Linked DNA regions of Homo sapiens: region 2 is linked to region 1. A link means that fine-mapping ties the variant in region 1 to the expression of a gene that starts in the linked region. Tissue or cell type: skeletal muscle. Region 1 holds a variant in brackets; the other region holds the start of a gene. All regions are shown on one strand. Distances are between the middles of the regions.

Evidence for each region. PIP is the estimated chance that this variant, and not a neighbour inherited with it, causes the effect. A credible set is the group of variants that fine-mapping cannot tell apart.
Region 2: it holds the start of EI24, and the variant in region 1 is the best candidate, but not a certain one, in a credible set for the expression of EI24 in skeletal muscle (FUSION, PIP 0.58).

The regions. Positions count from the first base shown.
Region 1 is chr11:125,677,987-125,685,370 of GRCh38, reverse strand. It overlaps ACRV1 (acrosomal vesicle protein 1), which reads left to right and starts at 4,524. Exons shown (of 4, transcript NM_001612.6): 1 at 4,524-4,642; 2 at 7,074-7,384. The coding sequence starts at 4,591. It overlaps LOC105369551 (a long non-coding RNA gene), which reads right to left and starts at 2,052. Exons shown (of 2, transcript XR_007062934.1): 1 at 1,242-2,052. It also overlaps a transcript of CHEK1 not described here. The variant A/TA (reference allele first, on the strand shown) is at 4,308.
Region 2 is chr11:125,565,389-125,572,772 of GRCh38, reverse strand. EI24 (EI24 autophagy associated transmembrane protein) reads right to left here and starts at 3,296. Exons shown (of 11, transcript NM_004879.5): 1 at 3,200-3,296; 2 at 204-315. The coding sequence starts at 245. It overlaps STT3A-AS1 (STT3A antisense RNA 1), which reads left to right. Exons shown (of 4, transcript NR_132372.1): 3 at 2,331-2,483; 4 at 4,655-4,665. RefSeq lists enhancers at 2,579-2,628, 3,131-3,632 and a silencer at 3,069-3,628.

The DNA.
Region 1 (7,384 bases):
AACTAAGGGAGAGCCTATTCATATTGAAACAAGGTTAGGTAGCTAAGGGAGAGTCTTAAAACAAGGTTAGGTATTACAATCTTTCTGCTATGTCTATAGTTTTCCGATGTTTGAGAATATGTTGGAATTTTGTGAGGTGTTTTGTGTTTTATTTTGTTGGTTGTTTTTGCAGAAGCAGCATTCTACATCCAGGTACCAGCTTTATGATAGTGAGAGAAGAGGAACAAGACACCATGTCTTGCCAATGCCCGTCTAGCATGCGTGGAGTGCATATACAGCTACAAGTCCTAGTGGCAGCCCACTCCTGATTCCTGGCTCACACAGTGGTGCCCTCCTGAAGCCAACAGTTCCTGTGGAAGCTGCCTGACACTCTACAGTGACTTTCCTGATTGTGATAGAGGTGGCAGCCATTAAAAAAAAAAAGAAAAAAGAATGGCAAAAACTGCAATTACTTTTGCACCAACCTAATACCTTTCTGCTGAAGGTAACTCACCAGACAAGCTCCTGTGTCCTGCAAGTGGGCCCTGACTGGTAGATATTTAAATAGTATTCACAAGTGAAATAAAATGAGTACTAGGATGACATTTTTTATTACATGATTTTATATTCTTTTTCCTACAAATAATAATTACATTATCATTTGCTCAATTAATTTTATGCTTCTGGCTAAGCTTCCCCACCTTCCAAGAGCTTCTCAGTACACATTTGTACATGGCTGTCATCGGAGCTATCAGATAATATATTATTATTTCTCTGGAGACTTCCACTTTGGGCCATTCATTCTCCTGCCCTTATCTGGGAGGGTTGTCTCCACCCCAGCTGCACAGCAATCATGCTGAGGCCTTCCTTCATGGCAATCCTGGGAATTTCTTTGTGACATCATAAAAATATCTATTTGGTCCTTGCTCCTGGTTCCTGGCACAGGGATCCTAATACCCTTGGAACTGTCTTTTTATGCTAATGAGATGATTCATGAAGTGGGCCTAGGTAGCTTCAGGGTACGGGTTGGTCATCAGAGAAACCAATCCCATGATTCAAGGGTTGAGAAGTTCAGCTCCACAAATGGCCAATGATTTAATCAATTTTGCCTATGTAATGAAGCCTCCATAAAACCCTCTAAACAGGATTCAGAGACCATCTGGGTTGATGAACACACTGATGTGCTGGGAGAATGGCCCACCCACAGAGGCCACGGAAGCTCTGCACCCAACCACCTCCCCGCCCCACCTGCCGCCACATACCTTTCCTATGTATTTCTTCCATGTGGCTGTTACTGTGCTGTGTCCTCTAGAATAATCTGGTAAATATAAGTAAAGCACTTTCCTGAGTTCTGTAAGTCCTTCTAGCAAAGCATCAAACCTGAGGAAATCTAAGGAGTAGAGGGAGAGGTTGGAAGGGATGTTTCTGAGAAGGCTTCTACTAAAAATCAGAGCACAACAAACTTATATGGGAACATATTTATCAAGTAGGGAAGAGTGCAAGAAGGGGAGGAATGTCTGCTTGAAGCCAGCAGCCTGGACTTAGGTGTGCCCCAGCTCTTCCTAAAAGAAAGCTTCCTCAACCTGGTTTCAGAGGCCAAAGCTTTCCAATACCAGACGGTGATATACCTAAGGGGACTGGAAAATGAGATCTAGGCAGGACTGGAGACAGCACTTGTGGGACCCAGTGCAACGCAAAAATGAGGCGCCTTTGTTAGAAAGTGACGAAGAATTTCCAGAGATTGAAAGCAAAGCAAGAAACCAGGGCCCTTTTGAGTGTGGGCCCATGCGCCTGCTCAGGAAGCCAGCCCTGGGTGTAGGATAGTTGTATAATAGGGAGCAGTTAAGCTCCTATCTAGGTCTTAATGCACACACATATTAAAAAGACTTCTCCATCATCCCCTGAAGCTATTTTAAATAAGGCATTGATTATCTAGGCTTTCCAAATAGGTATTTCTGCCCTCCACCCTGAAGATTTTCAGTATAGAAAGTTTCAAACATATACAAAAGTAGAGAGTACCCGCATGTACCCATCACACAGCTTCAACAATCATGCACACAGGACCAATCTTATTTTATCTTCTTTTTTTTTTTTTTGAGACAGAGTTTCTTTCTTGTTGCCCAGGCTGGAATGCAATGGCACAGTCTCAGCTCACTGAAACCTCCACCTCCCAGGTTCAAGCGATTCTCCTGCCTTCGCCTCCCAAGTAGCTGGAATTGCAGGTGCCCGCCACCATGCCCGACTAATTTTTTTGTATTTTTAGTAGAGATGGGGTTTCACCATGTTGGCCAGGCTGGTCTTGAACTCCTGACCTCAGGTGATCTGCTCGCCTCAGCCTTCCAAAGTGCTAGGATCACAGGCACAAGCCACTGTGTCCAGTCTTATTTTATCTTCTTTCCCCGTTCATTGCTACAATCCCTCATTTAGGTTATTTTGAAGCAAATTTACATAGGGAATTTTTAAAAACAATTGTTTTCAGCTGAAAGCATCAGCTCTCCAGAGCCCACTGTCTGTCTTTCTATGTTCTAAGTTAGGGTGGAATAGATAGCACCTCTTCCCTTCTACTAATTTCCACTGCTTCTATCAACAAAAGTCAGACCCAAGGCTCATAGCTGTTCTTCCAAACTCATCCTGGAGGAAAAGAATTATTGATAGCATGCTCTTTCATACCTTTCTCTACTGTAAAGGAACCTGCCTGAGGCTCAGAAATCCTAGCTTTATCCTCTAACTCAAGTCAAGTAACTTTTGATCCCTGGTGATCTTGCTGTCTTCAACTAACCCAGAACCTTAATCCAGATTCTCTTCTATAGATTCTCTTACATGATTCTCTATAAATTCTCCTCTATGAGGCAGAGAGAGGCCCCAAAAGGTAACTCATTCCTTCCTTCCTTCAGGAAAAGCTTAGGCATGCTGCTAGGTACTGGGACTACAACAATAGTCAAGACAGGGTCTCTGCATTCAAGCTTAGAGTCCAACGGGGAGTACAAACATGAAACAAATAATTATAACAGTGATAAAGTGTTAGTCCAAACTGCACCATTTCGTAACCCCCACCGACCCCCGCCATTTTGCAGACCTTGGCTAAAGTGAAGCATTCCACGGGGGTTTGGGCCCTTAGAAACAGCCTGTCCAACTGCCTCCCTGACTTTATCACACTCTGCTGGGAAAAAGTCCAAGGAACATCAGCATCACATTCTGCGGGAACAAGGGCCAAAATGCCTCATTATGGGAACATCTTCCCAGGCAGCAAGCCATACTGCCCAGACCCGTCCTGCTCATACCTACAAGTACCCCAACCTGTACGAAGCAGTGGGCACTGGCATTAAGCTAGTCCCCCACCTCTGTAGGTCTTATGCTAGACAGAAAGCCTGGATTTGATGTAGAGCCGCCACTCTCTCTTTCTTTAACCCTCACCTTCCTTTCAAAATGTAACAATAAGTACATCTATTCTAGATTTAGCATTCAGTGGTATATAAAACAAAGTTGTTCAAGAGAGCTGAGCAGAGAAGCAGCGAGAAATGGAAGCTACCAGATCTTTGCCACTCAATCCTCCATAAGTTCTAGTTTTATATCAGGTGGATGCCTCACTGCATCCATCTTCTCAGCTTGGCCACCCCCTTGCTACCAAGTTGCAGCTCAAAACGCAGCTTTCTACTGTCTCTTGATCTCTTTACTCTGCCCATATCTGTGTAAACTCTCCTCAGTTACCCATTTGAGTTTGCCACCTGTTTCCTGCTAAAACCATGTTGATAAAGGTCTGTATGAAAAGACTATTTACAGAAGTGGGCAAGGTTAAGGAAACAAACAAACAAAAAAAGAGATAAGTTTGGGCATCCAGATTTTAGTAACAGCAGGAAACCATTATCATCCCTAGGCCTAAGAGGGCAGGGGGAGAAAAACATATTACCATAGCATGGATGAGAGCTGGAGCCATGGAAGAGAGGACACCCAACAGAAGCTCTGTCATGTAGACTCAGCCAGTGTCAACTGTGGCAGGAAGGGAATAGGAAGAACAAATATTCCAGTCTCGCTCTCTTTCTCCCCATTCCTCCCTTCCCTCTTCCTCTCTCTCTTTCTCTCTTCTCCCCTCCAATCCTGTATAAACCCAATCTGAAGCCAAATCCAGCCAGCATTCAGGTGATAAAGTCAACAGAGGTCAACCTTCCAGGGTACAGATCAGAGCCAAGAAAGGCTGATTTAGAAAGCCAAACAGAAAACAATCAACAATTACATCTCATTGTCAAAAACACTTTTAAAAGACAGTAGATATCTTTTAAACTTTATTACAAAAAATATGTGCTTTTTGGTAATACTTTTTTTTTTTTTTT[A/TA]AAGATAGGGCAGATAGCCCCAACACACTACCCTGCACACAGAAAATAATCATTGGTCTTCACTAGTGAAATAAGCAGTGGGTTGCTAAGGGCCAACTTGCCTGAACAGGCTACACAAGAACCTCAGAGCCCAACCCATTGTGAAGAAACATGGGTTACTTCTGAGGTTCTAGAATTCCCAGAAGCTCTGCTTCAGCACTGGAAGCTTTTGCTCGCAGTTTGCTTCATAGCTCTGTGAAGAAGCTGTGGCCCACACTGGGGTCCCCTCTTTTCCTAAATCCAGATGAACAGGTTTCTCTTGCTAATGAGTCTTTATCTGCTTGGATCTGCCAGAGGTGAGTGTTTGATCTAGGCTTCAGGTAAATACAAAAGGGGTCTCCCTTAAGACATTTCAGGCCTTGAAGAAGGAAGACCAGTCTCTCAGTCACCCAAACCAATCTGAGTCAGAATCAAGAGCAGCTAAACAAGTCCAACTCGGAGAGCTCCTGAACCAGTTGATTTCTCTAGTCATAGCTTTACAGTCAGAGGGTCCCACTGGCTTGGCACAGTCTGGTTTCTACTTATTTTAGCCACTCAACATTTATACCTGATGCTGCATGAGATGAAAAAGTAGGCTTAGGGGTTCTGTAGAAGCCCAATGAAGGTTTGTCCCACCAATTAAATGTGAGGGATCCTTGTGTGGTTAATGTGCCAAGGAAAGATGGGAGATGGGAAGATGTAATGTGTTCAGAAAACAACCTCAGAACACGACAGAGCTATAGGCCAGAGACTTCATAAGCCTCTTCTTCATGGCTGTGTTATATCAATCAGGTTTTCTGTATCATCTCTTCTTTTGGGATCCCCCATTCATGGTGTGCTGTGTTCCCTCCTGCCTCCTACAGCAGAAAGAGGCCATGAGCTCTGAGCTTTCAGTGAAAAAACAATGTATTTTCTATAATGTCGACTGTCAGAGGTTTTGCTTTTTGCTTTGTTAGACCTTCAAAAGTTGACTCAAAAATGTAGATACACAGCCACCAGGTGATAGTATGTGCCAGTCACATGGTGACACGAGTCATAAACTATAAGATCAAGAAATTAGCATGCTTTTTATGTCTCCTTTCTATATCAGAAACATCTCTTTATCAAAACTTGTGTTAATTATTGAAAAACCAGTCAAGTAGATAGTATTTATGTAATAAGTTTAAAAAATAAAAACCTCCTAAAAGCTTTACTAAATCTTACCTTTCCTTTATCAACATATTCTCACCCTAGTCATTTAGAAAGTCACTGATTGTAAGTACTGCACTGTGCCAAGAAAATATATCTATCGCAAGATTCTTAGAGTTTTGAGTACTCTGGGGTTTTAGACTACCTCAGCCTCAAAGATCCAATAATTCCTCTCAGCTTTTGGCTAGAATTAAATAACTTGGTTGTTGTAGTCTACTTGTCTTCCTCTAGGTGGCTCAGTTTAATCAAAGAGTAATAATCAAATTATCTGTTTTGTGCTTCTGTTCACTTAAAATATACTTAAGGAATATTTGTCTGACAGTCAATGATGAGATGGATTGGCCAGACACAGTGGCTCATGCCTGTAATCCCAGCATTTTGGGAGGCTGAGGCGGGCGGATCACTTGAGGTCAGGAGTTCAAGACCAGCCTGGCCAACATGGCGAGACCCTGTCTCTACTAAAAATACAAAAATTAGCCAGGTATGGTGGCATGCACCTGTAATCCCAGCTACTCGGGAGGCAGAGGCAGGAGGATCACTTGAACCCGGGAGGCGGAGGTTGCAGTGAGCCAAGATTGTGCCACTGTACTCCAGCCTGGGCAACAGAGCGAGACTCTATCTTTGAAACAAAAAAAAAAAAAGAAAGAGACGGATTAAAGGTAGAAGAGACTGGCCAGAAAAAAATAACCATGTAAGAGTTTTGTAATTCCCAGTGTAAGGTGGGAAGAAAAGAAAAATAAAATTGAGTACTAGGCAATGGTGCACTTCACAATTTATCTTATTAAGTACTCAGGACAACTCCATGAAGTGAATGTAAATGGTATGTCACAAGGATACAATTCATATATGTGTGTGTGTCTATATATATATATATATATAATATGCCTAGACTTTTTTTTTTTTACCTTAATAGCTTATAGCAACTTTGCTCTCTGAATCCCCAACCCACATGGATTGGGGATTGAGTGTGAGAAAATACTTGACATTACCAAATACAGGCGGCTTAATCCCTTCTGATAATTTTTGTGGGCTCATACTTGTCATCCCTGTCCAAAGGTTAACTCTTCCGCCCTTAATTTAGGTTACAAATACTCAGGTATTGAAAACTACTTGCTTTCTCTCTCCCTCTTCTATCTCTACTCTTCTTGTCTTTCACCCATAGAGGAATGGGAGGGTTGGTGGCGAACTTCTGATTCTATCAGGGATGGTATCCTGACTTCCTGATGCTGACTTTGTCAGGGAGGCACATTCATTTTCCTTCAGGGGTTTTTTGTACATGGATGAGTGGATTCTCCTAAGTAGTTCTTAATATTGGGGAACTTAAGATTCTTCCCTTCAATCCCAGAGGTGGCCTCTGTTTGTTTCACTAAACACTTCTGTCCTCCATGGCCTTTTGGGATACTTAGTTGATTTTTCCCAACATCTGCAGTCTTCAGGTGCCCAATCTAGGCCCATAGGAAACCTAGGAGTCTCATAACATTAGCCTAACTCCATAGGAAGATAGTCTTTATCCCATTCTGTCAGCTTCACCAACTCTCTTCTGTTCCTTCTCCATCCCAGGAACATCAAGTCAGCCTAATGAGCTTTCTGGCTCCATAGATCATCAAACTTCAGTTCAGCAACTTCCAGGTGAGTTCTTTTCACTTGAAAACCCTTCTGATGCTGAGGCTTTATATGAGACTTCTTCAGGCCTGAACACTTTAAGTGAGCATGGTTCCAGTGAGCATGGTTCAAGCAAGCACACTGTGGCCGAGCACACTTCTGGAGAACATGCTGAGAGTGAGCATGCTTCAGGTGAGCCCGCTGCGACTGAACATGCTGAAGGTGAGCATACTGTAGGTGAGCAGCCTTCAGGAGAACAGCCTTCAGGT
Region 2 (7,384 bases), 110 kb after region 1:
CTTCCAAGCACCTGCAAGACTGTCTGCAAGATGTAGAACAATACCTATTTCTTGAGTAGTGTGGTCTAGAATAACAACCTTTATGTAAAGAACCCAAGAAATATGATAAAAGTTCCAAAAACCCTAAAGGATTTCCTAGATGGTTCCTTCAGCAAAAAAAAAAAAGGCCGAGAGATGAATTCCTATAAACAAGATGTACTCACTCTGGCAAGGTCCTGGAGAAAGGTTTTGACACTGTCAGCCATCTCTTCACCACCAAACTATCAACTACACACAGGAGAGAGAAGTGTCCCCAAATCTCTCATCATGAAGGATCTGGAAACAGATGGAACATAATGGAGGCAAATATTTATTTTAAAGATAAGTTACTTCATGCACATTTCCACATGATGACCTCACATACTTGTAGCTCTAGTAAGATAGCAGTAGATTCTAGCACTAATAGAGTGAATCAAGTGAAGCTATTCCTGTACAGCTGAAACCTAAAATCCCTATTTTTTTTCTAAAACACTCACCACCCTTTCATTTTTACAAGGGGTTTTACATTTTACACCCTCTCATTTTTACATTTTACATTTTTACAATGTGCTCTTGACCAGTAACCTCCTCTGAGCCTCAATGCCCCTAACTATCCCTCCTACACATTCTAAGCACTTTTGAGGGTTTGGAGATGGAAGATAATTACATTTCAATATCTTCTTAAGCAATTTTTATGTTTGCTGGATACCTTCAAATACTTGAATGAAAATACAAGAGCAAGATAAAAGTTCTTACAAAAATTACTAAATACATGCTTCAGTCATACAGAGCCCTCGGGCACAGTAAAGTTTAAGGTATGACATGAAATTGCGTACCAAAACCTCCAAATAGGTCTTTTTTATTTTATTTTATTTTTTGAGACAGAGTCTCGCTCTTGTTGCCCAGGCTGGAGTGCAACACTGGGCTCGGCTCACTGCAACCTCCACCTCCCAGGTTCAAGTGATTCTCTTGCCTCAGCCTCCCGAGTAGCTGAGATTACAGGAACCCGCCACCACGCCCAGCTAATTTTGTGTATTTTTAGTAGAGATGGGGTTTCGCCATGTTGGCCAGGCTGATCTCAAACTCCTGATCTCAGGTGATCCATCCATCTCAGCCTCCCAAAGTGCTAGGATTACAGGCATGAGCCACCACGCCCGGCTGGTCTTTTCTGTTTTCTAACTTTAAATATATACAGATACAATTTTAATAAACATGCAATAAATAGTGGATTTTAAACTAGGCCTCAAAAAAGTTCATATGTATAAACAGTCTTTAAAACAGTAAGGCTTTCCCATTTTATTTCTCAGGTGAATGGGATATCTAGTTTCAAAAATTAAGAACTTGAGAGTTCATGTGAGAAATACTTGTAATTAATATACTATTCTCTCATTTAATCTGTGGTGACTTCTAAGATGAATAGAAAACCCACTTTCAGGCATTTTTTAAGAACCTGATATTCTAAAGTTCTCAACACTCACTCAATCAAGTTGCAGTATTCTCAGTTTAAGAGGTATGACCATAATACAAAGACAGAATTTCACAAGCAGCTTGTACAAACCTTAAATTTCAAAATATAAGCACACTTTCCCCGACCTTTAACCACTTCACCAAACTGCTCCTCATTGACCCAACTGGACTAATGCCATTCAGAACTGGAAGAGCAGGGGATATGGCAGTAGGAAGGCAATTTGCCCAACATTGTATATACCCTCTGCTCCTTAGGTCAAATCCTACACAGATAGGCTCACTTCGGATAGAAGTCTCTAGGGTAAGAAACTTCTGTTAATACTCCCACTGTTTCCTCCTGAAAACAAACACCTCAGAGTTCCAGTCGCGTAGGTACAGCCATACAGACATGTTCTCAGGGTTGAGGTGAGGGCAGCTGAGCTAGATAACTAGCAAAGGCTCAGTGATATGCACGACACTAGTTTGTAAAGACTCACAGATCCACTCCCGTAACCTGCCACTGGCTCATCTATAAATTAAGGGTACTAAACTTCTTCATAGGTTTCTTGCATCTAATAGGGCACAACAGCATGAAAAAAACTTAAAATTCTATATAAACACAACCCCACCAAAGTGAGCCAGCTTGGAGGTTTAAGGAAGCCCATTACTTGGCCTGGATTTCTCACAGGGAACTGACAGGGAACCTGAAACATTCTGTCTCAGTCCACAACAGCTGTGTCATTTGATCCCTGGCCAGCTAACACCTGGTTTCTGCATGTACCAAGTGGCAGGACACCTCCTAAGAGTGACCTATGAAGGATAAATCACTTCACTTTTATACTTAGATCCTAACATCCTTCCTACAGGAATATTTGGTGAATTACCCAGTCTGACAAATAGCTGAGGCATGGGGAAAAATAACCTGCCACAATTTGAGAACACACACACAGACTGAATGACACAGGGGGAATCCTACAGCTGAGCTAGACAGATGAAGATGCATCTGGCTCATTTAACAGGTGAGAGAACCCAGTCTCAGAAGTTAAATGACTTGCCCAGACTGACAGCAAATGAATGGCAGCTACAGTGAACCTCAGAACCCGGTGTTCTAACGTTACCTCGGTCGAGACTTGTTTTTACTTAAGCTTTGCAATGAAGATTTTTGTTTTAACACGAGCATCCCATGGACAAATAACCTCTCAAACCTGGAAATACAAATGCCATTAAATTCCCAACAGTCATTAGAAGCTAATAAGCATCTGCTGAGACACACTTTTATTTCTAAGTCACTAAACCCAAGTCTCGGCAAACAGGAAGCTGTCGTAGCCCACTCCAGGTACAGGGAAGGTAAACATCCTCACTTCCCACGGGGCTCCACGGGCTGCCTCTGAGTCCACGGGTCCATTCAGGCCCATCTCCCCACAGCTCCTAGGCAATTCGGCAGAAAACTGGTCTCCCTAGGCACAACTGTGCACGAGGTACGGATCACGCGAGGTGCGGATCACGCACGCTCCGGGTCACACAGGGAGCTAAAGATAGCTGCGCCGCACCTGGGGCAGCCTCGCCCGGGGATGTGCCCGGCCCCGTCCCGCTCCCTCCGGCCCCTTCCCATAAGGGGTCCTCGCCGGTAGCCCCACCAACCCACGCTCGGGCCCTGCCTGCCCTCCCGGTCCCTGCCACTCAGAATGGGCGGCGCGGCGGCCCCGAGGCCTAGCTCGGCTGAGCCCGCACCTACCCACAGCTCCGCCGCCGCGGCTCCGGCCCTGCCCCTAGCCCACCGCAGGCCAGCTCCGCCGGGGCGCTTCCAGGGCCGGGGCCGCTGCGCCCGCACTGGGCATGCCCGGGCCGCACGGGGCCGCTGGGAAGTCGGGCGAGCGCGAAGAACCAGCCGGCACCACGAGGCGGGGCCCAGAGCCGAAGGGGTGGGCCGCGCGGAGCGACGGAGACTGGGAAATGTAGTCAGTCCGGGGTCCCGCCTCGCGCTGCGTGCGGGATCGTCCGGCTCCCAACTCCGCCTGGCGGCGGAGAGGACCCCTCACCCCTCCGCGTCGCCTCCTCCCCGTCGCCTCCTCGCCGATCCCGTTCTCACAGATCTCTCCTCCTGTTCTTTGCCCTCCCCCATTGACTCCACAACGCTGCTTGCGTTTCTAAAATCCTGTGAAATTAGTAACAGGATGCCTTTAATCCCAGCATTTTGGGAGGCCAAGGCAGGCAGATCACGAGGTCAGGAGTTCAAGACCAGCCTGGCCAACATAGCGAAACCCCATCTCTACTAAAATAACAAAAATTAGCCAGGTGTGGTGGTACCTGCCTGTGGTCCCAGCTACTCAGGAGGCTGAGGCAGGAGAATTACTTGAACTCAGGGGATGAAGGTTGCAGTGAGCCGAGATCACACCACTGCACTCCTGCCTGGGCGACTGAGCAAGACTCAGTCTCAAAATAATAATAATAATAATAAATTTAAAAAATGAAATAAAATAAGTGGCTGGGCACGGTGGCTCATGCGTGTAACCTCAGCACTTTGGGAAGCTGAGGCGGGCAGATCACTTGAGGCCACCCTGGCCAAGATGGTGAAATCCCGTCTCTACTAAAAATACAAAAAATTAGCTGGGCATGGTGGCACACACCTGTGGTCCCAGCTACTTGGTCGGCTAAGGAATGAGAATCACTTCAATTCAGGAGGCAGAGGTTGCGGTGAGCCGAGATCGCACTACTGCACTTCAGCCTGGGTGACACAGCTAGACTGTCTCGAAAAATAAAATAAAATAAAACAAAACAAAACAATATAAAATAGAATAGAATAAGGAATCCATCTACTAAAGCTTAGAAATCTTGTTACAAAGAGACCTAAGTGGTTTAATGACAAACTGATTATTGTGCTATTAATTATAATAATAGCTCTTCCTCCAAGCTCTATTCTTTCTCAAGAGTGTCAATTTAGAAAAGATTTTAGAAAGAATTTAGTAGGTATGAGTTTATTCTGGCTTACTTCATGGGAGGAAATCTTTTTTTTTTTTTTTTTTTGAGACTGAGTCTGTCTTTGTCTCCCAGGCTGGAGTGCAGTGGTGCGATCTCGGCTCACTGCAAGCTCCGCCCCCTGGGTTCACGCCATTCTCCTGCCTCAGCCTCCTGAGTAGCTGGGACTACAGGCACCTGCCACCAAGCATGGCTAATTTTTTTGTATTTTTAGTAGAGACGGGGTTTCACCGTGTTAGCCAGGATGGTCTCGATCTCCTGACCTCGTGGTCCGCCCACCTACAGCCTCCCAAAGTGCTGGGATTACAGGCGTGAGCCACTGCGCCTGGCCGGGAGGAAATCTTTTAAATCTCAACATGTATAACCACATTTAAAATAAAAACCAATAATAATTAATACCTTGCATTTTTAAAGAGCTCTCACATGCTTATGTATGATTAGATGCTATTTGTGGACAAGTAGAGGATATTATTTTCCAAATTTCACAAATGAGGAAGTTTGTGGCAGAGCACTTTGAGAAGACATGACCTCCAGTTAAGCTGTGAACCTTAGTTTCTTTTTTTTTTTTTTTTTTTTTTTGAGACAGTGTCTCTCTATCTTGGCTCACTGCAAGCTCCACCTCCCGGGTTCACACCATTCTCCTGTCTCAGCCTCCCAAGTAGCTGGGACTACAGGTGCCCGCCACCACGCCCGGCTAATTTTTTGTATTTTTAGTAGAGACGGGGTTTCACCATGTTAGCCAGGATGGTCTCGATCTTCTGACCTCGTGATCCACCCGCCTTGGCCTCCCAAAGTGCTGGGATTACAGGTGTGAGCCAGCACGCCTGGCCCAAACCTTAGTTTCTTTAACACAGGCTGCTGAAATAAATGGTATATATATGAAGGTGTTTTTTAACTGTATGGATATATGATTTAGTGAAATGATAACAATACTAGATCTAGTGATAGCGACAGGAGACAGCCAAATGCCTAGGCAGTTAGTGGCGGGTCCCCATTGAAACCCCACCTCCAAGCCAAAAACAGTTTAAAGCTCGAAAGCCAAGCTACAAGTTAAGTCCTCAGACCAGATTGAGAACTTGTCTTCCTGTCTTGCATGTTTTCCTCTGATTGATCCCCACCCTTCACCTATTTTACATATACCTACCCTTTCCTGATTGGTTTTCTACACTGTTGTGCCCACCTTTGAGTGGTGCCTTTGCTTTAACCTTTCTTGCATAGCCACAAACCAATCTGCACATACTCCCCATCCTGTGCCTATAAGGACCCCTGACTTAGTCAGTAGAGTGGGAGACCGCCTGACTTTGAGGAAGACGACCTGCCCTTCCTGTCCCTTCTCCAGCTCCCCTCACTGCTGAGACTCGTTTTCATCACTAAAAAAAATTCTCTGCCCTCAACATCCTTCTTTGTTTTTTTCTTTGTTTTTTTTTTTGAGACAGAGTCTTGCTCTGTCACCCAGGCTGGAGTGCAATGGTGCAATCTCAGCTCACTGCAACCTATGCCTCCTGGGTTCAAGCAATTCTCCTGCCTCAGCCTCCTAAGTAGCTGGGATTATAGGCACCTGCCACCACGCCCAGCTAAGTTTTTGTATTTTTAGTAGAGATGGGGTTTCACCATGTTGGCCAGGCTGATCTCAAACTCCTGACCTCAGGTGATCCACCCACCTCAGGCTCTCAAAGTGTTGAGATTACTGGCGTGAGCCACCGCACCTGGCCCGCCATCCTTCAATCCTGCATGTGACCTCATTCTTCTTGGACACTGGACAAGAGCTTGGGACCCACCAAGTACAGGTACCCAGAAAGGCTGTCACACTGGTCCTTTGCCCCCACCAGTGGAAGGCAGCTGCCCCACGTGACAAGGCAAAGGGCCAACTGAGCTACTAACACACTGCTGTTTGTGGATGATGAAACTAAAGGAGCACTGTAACACCCGCTCTGAGGCTTCAGGGTCATGGGCACTTTCACCTGGGCACTGCAGTGTTCCTCTTGAGGCAACATGCCTGGTCTGGCCACAGGCCCCACACAGAGCTTGCTCCTGTGCCAGTGCCCAGAGTGGCTGGCTGGATCTTGAACTTGCTTGCTCATGTGCTCCCTCCTGCAAGTGGTTGATTGTGGTGGGCCTGGTAGACAAGGCGCCCCCTTCCATGAGTTTGTCAAAGGGGCCAAGAAAAATCCTGCATCATTAGGGGCCAGATCTCCTAGCTTCCAGCCTTGGAATCTTCTAGGAGAGAGAGATACTATGATTTATTAAGCATCTACTATACCAAGCCTTTTATATTTATTATTTCAACAACAATTTAAGTGTTGTAATGAAAAATTATCACTATTTTTTTTTGTTTTTGAGATAGAGTCTCACTCTGACACTCAGGCTGGAGTACAGTGGCATGATCATGGCTCACTGAAGCCTTGACCTCCTGGGCCTAAGCAATCCTCTTGCCTCAGCCTCCTGAGTAGCTGTTGTAGCTGATTTAAAAAAAAATTCCATGCCTTCCTATTAAGAAAAAAAAACTCCAACCAGGTTTGTCTAACGCCCGATTCCACACCCTTTCCTCTACCATATTTGTGTTCCATTATGGATCACAAAAGTCTTCTCATTTAAATTTAGGTTGTGTATTGTCATTATTAAAGTAGTGCTCCTCTTTGTTTTGCCTGTGGTTGCTAAAAGAAAAAAAGAGAGAGAGAAAGAAAATAATGAAAGTGTTGGCCAGTATGGTGGCTCATGCCTGTAATCCCAGTACTTTGGGAGGCAGAGGCGGGTGGATCACCTGAGGTCAGAAGTTTGAGACCAGCCTGAACAACATGGTGAAACCCTGTCTCTTCTAAAAATACAAAAATTAGCCTGGTGTGGTTGTGCACACCTGTAGTCCCAGCTACTCAGGAGGCTGATGCAGGAGAATCACTTGAACCTGGGAGGTGGAGGTTGCAGTGAGCTGAGATTGTGCCACTGC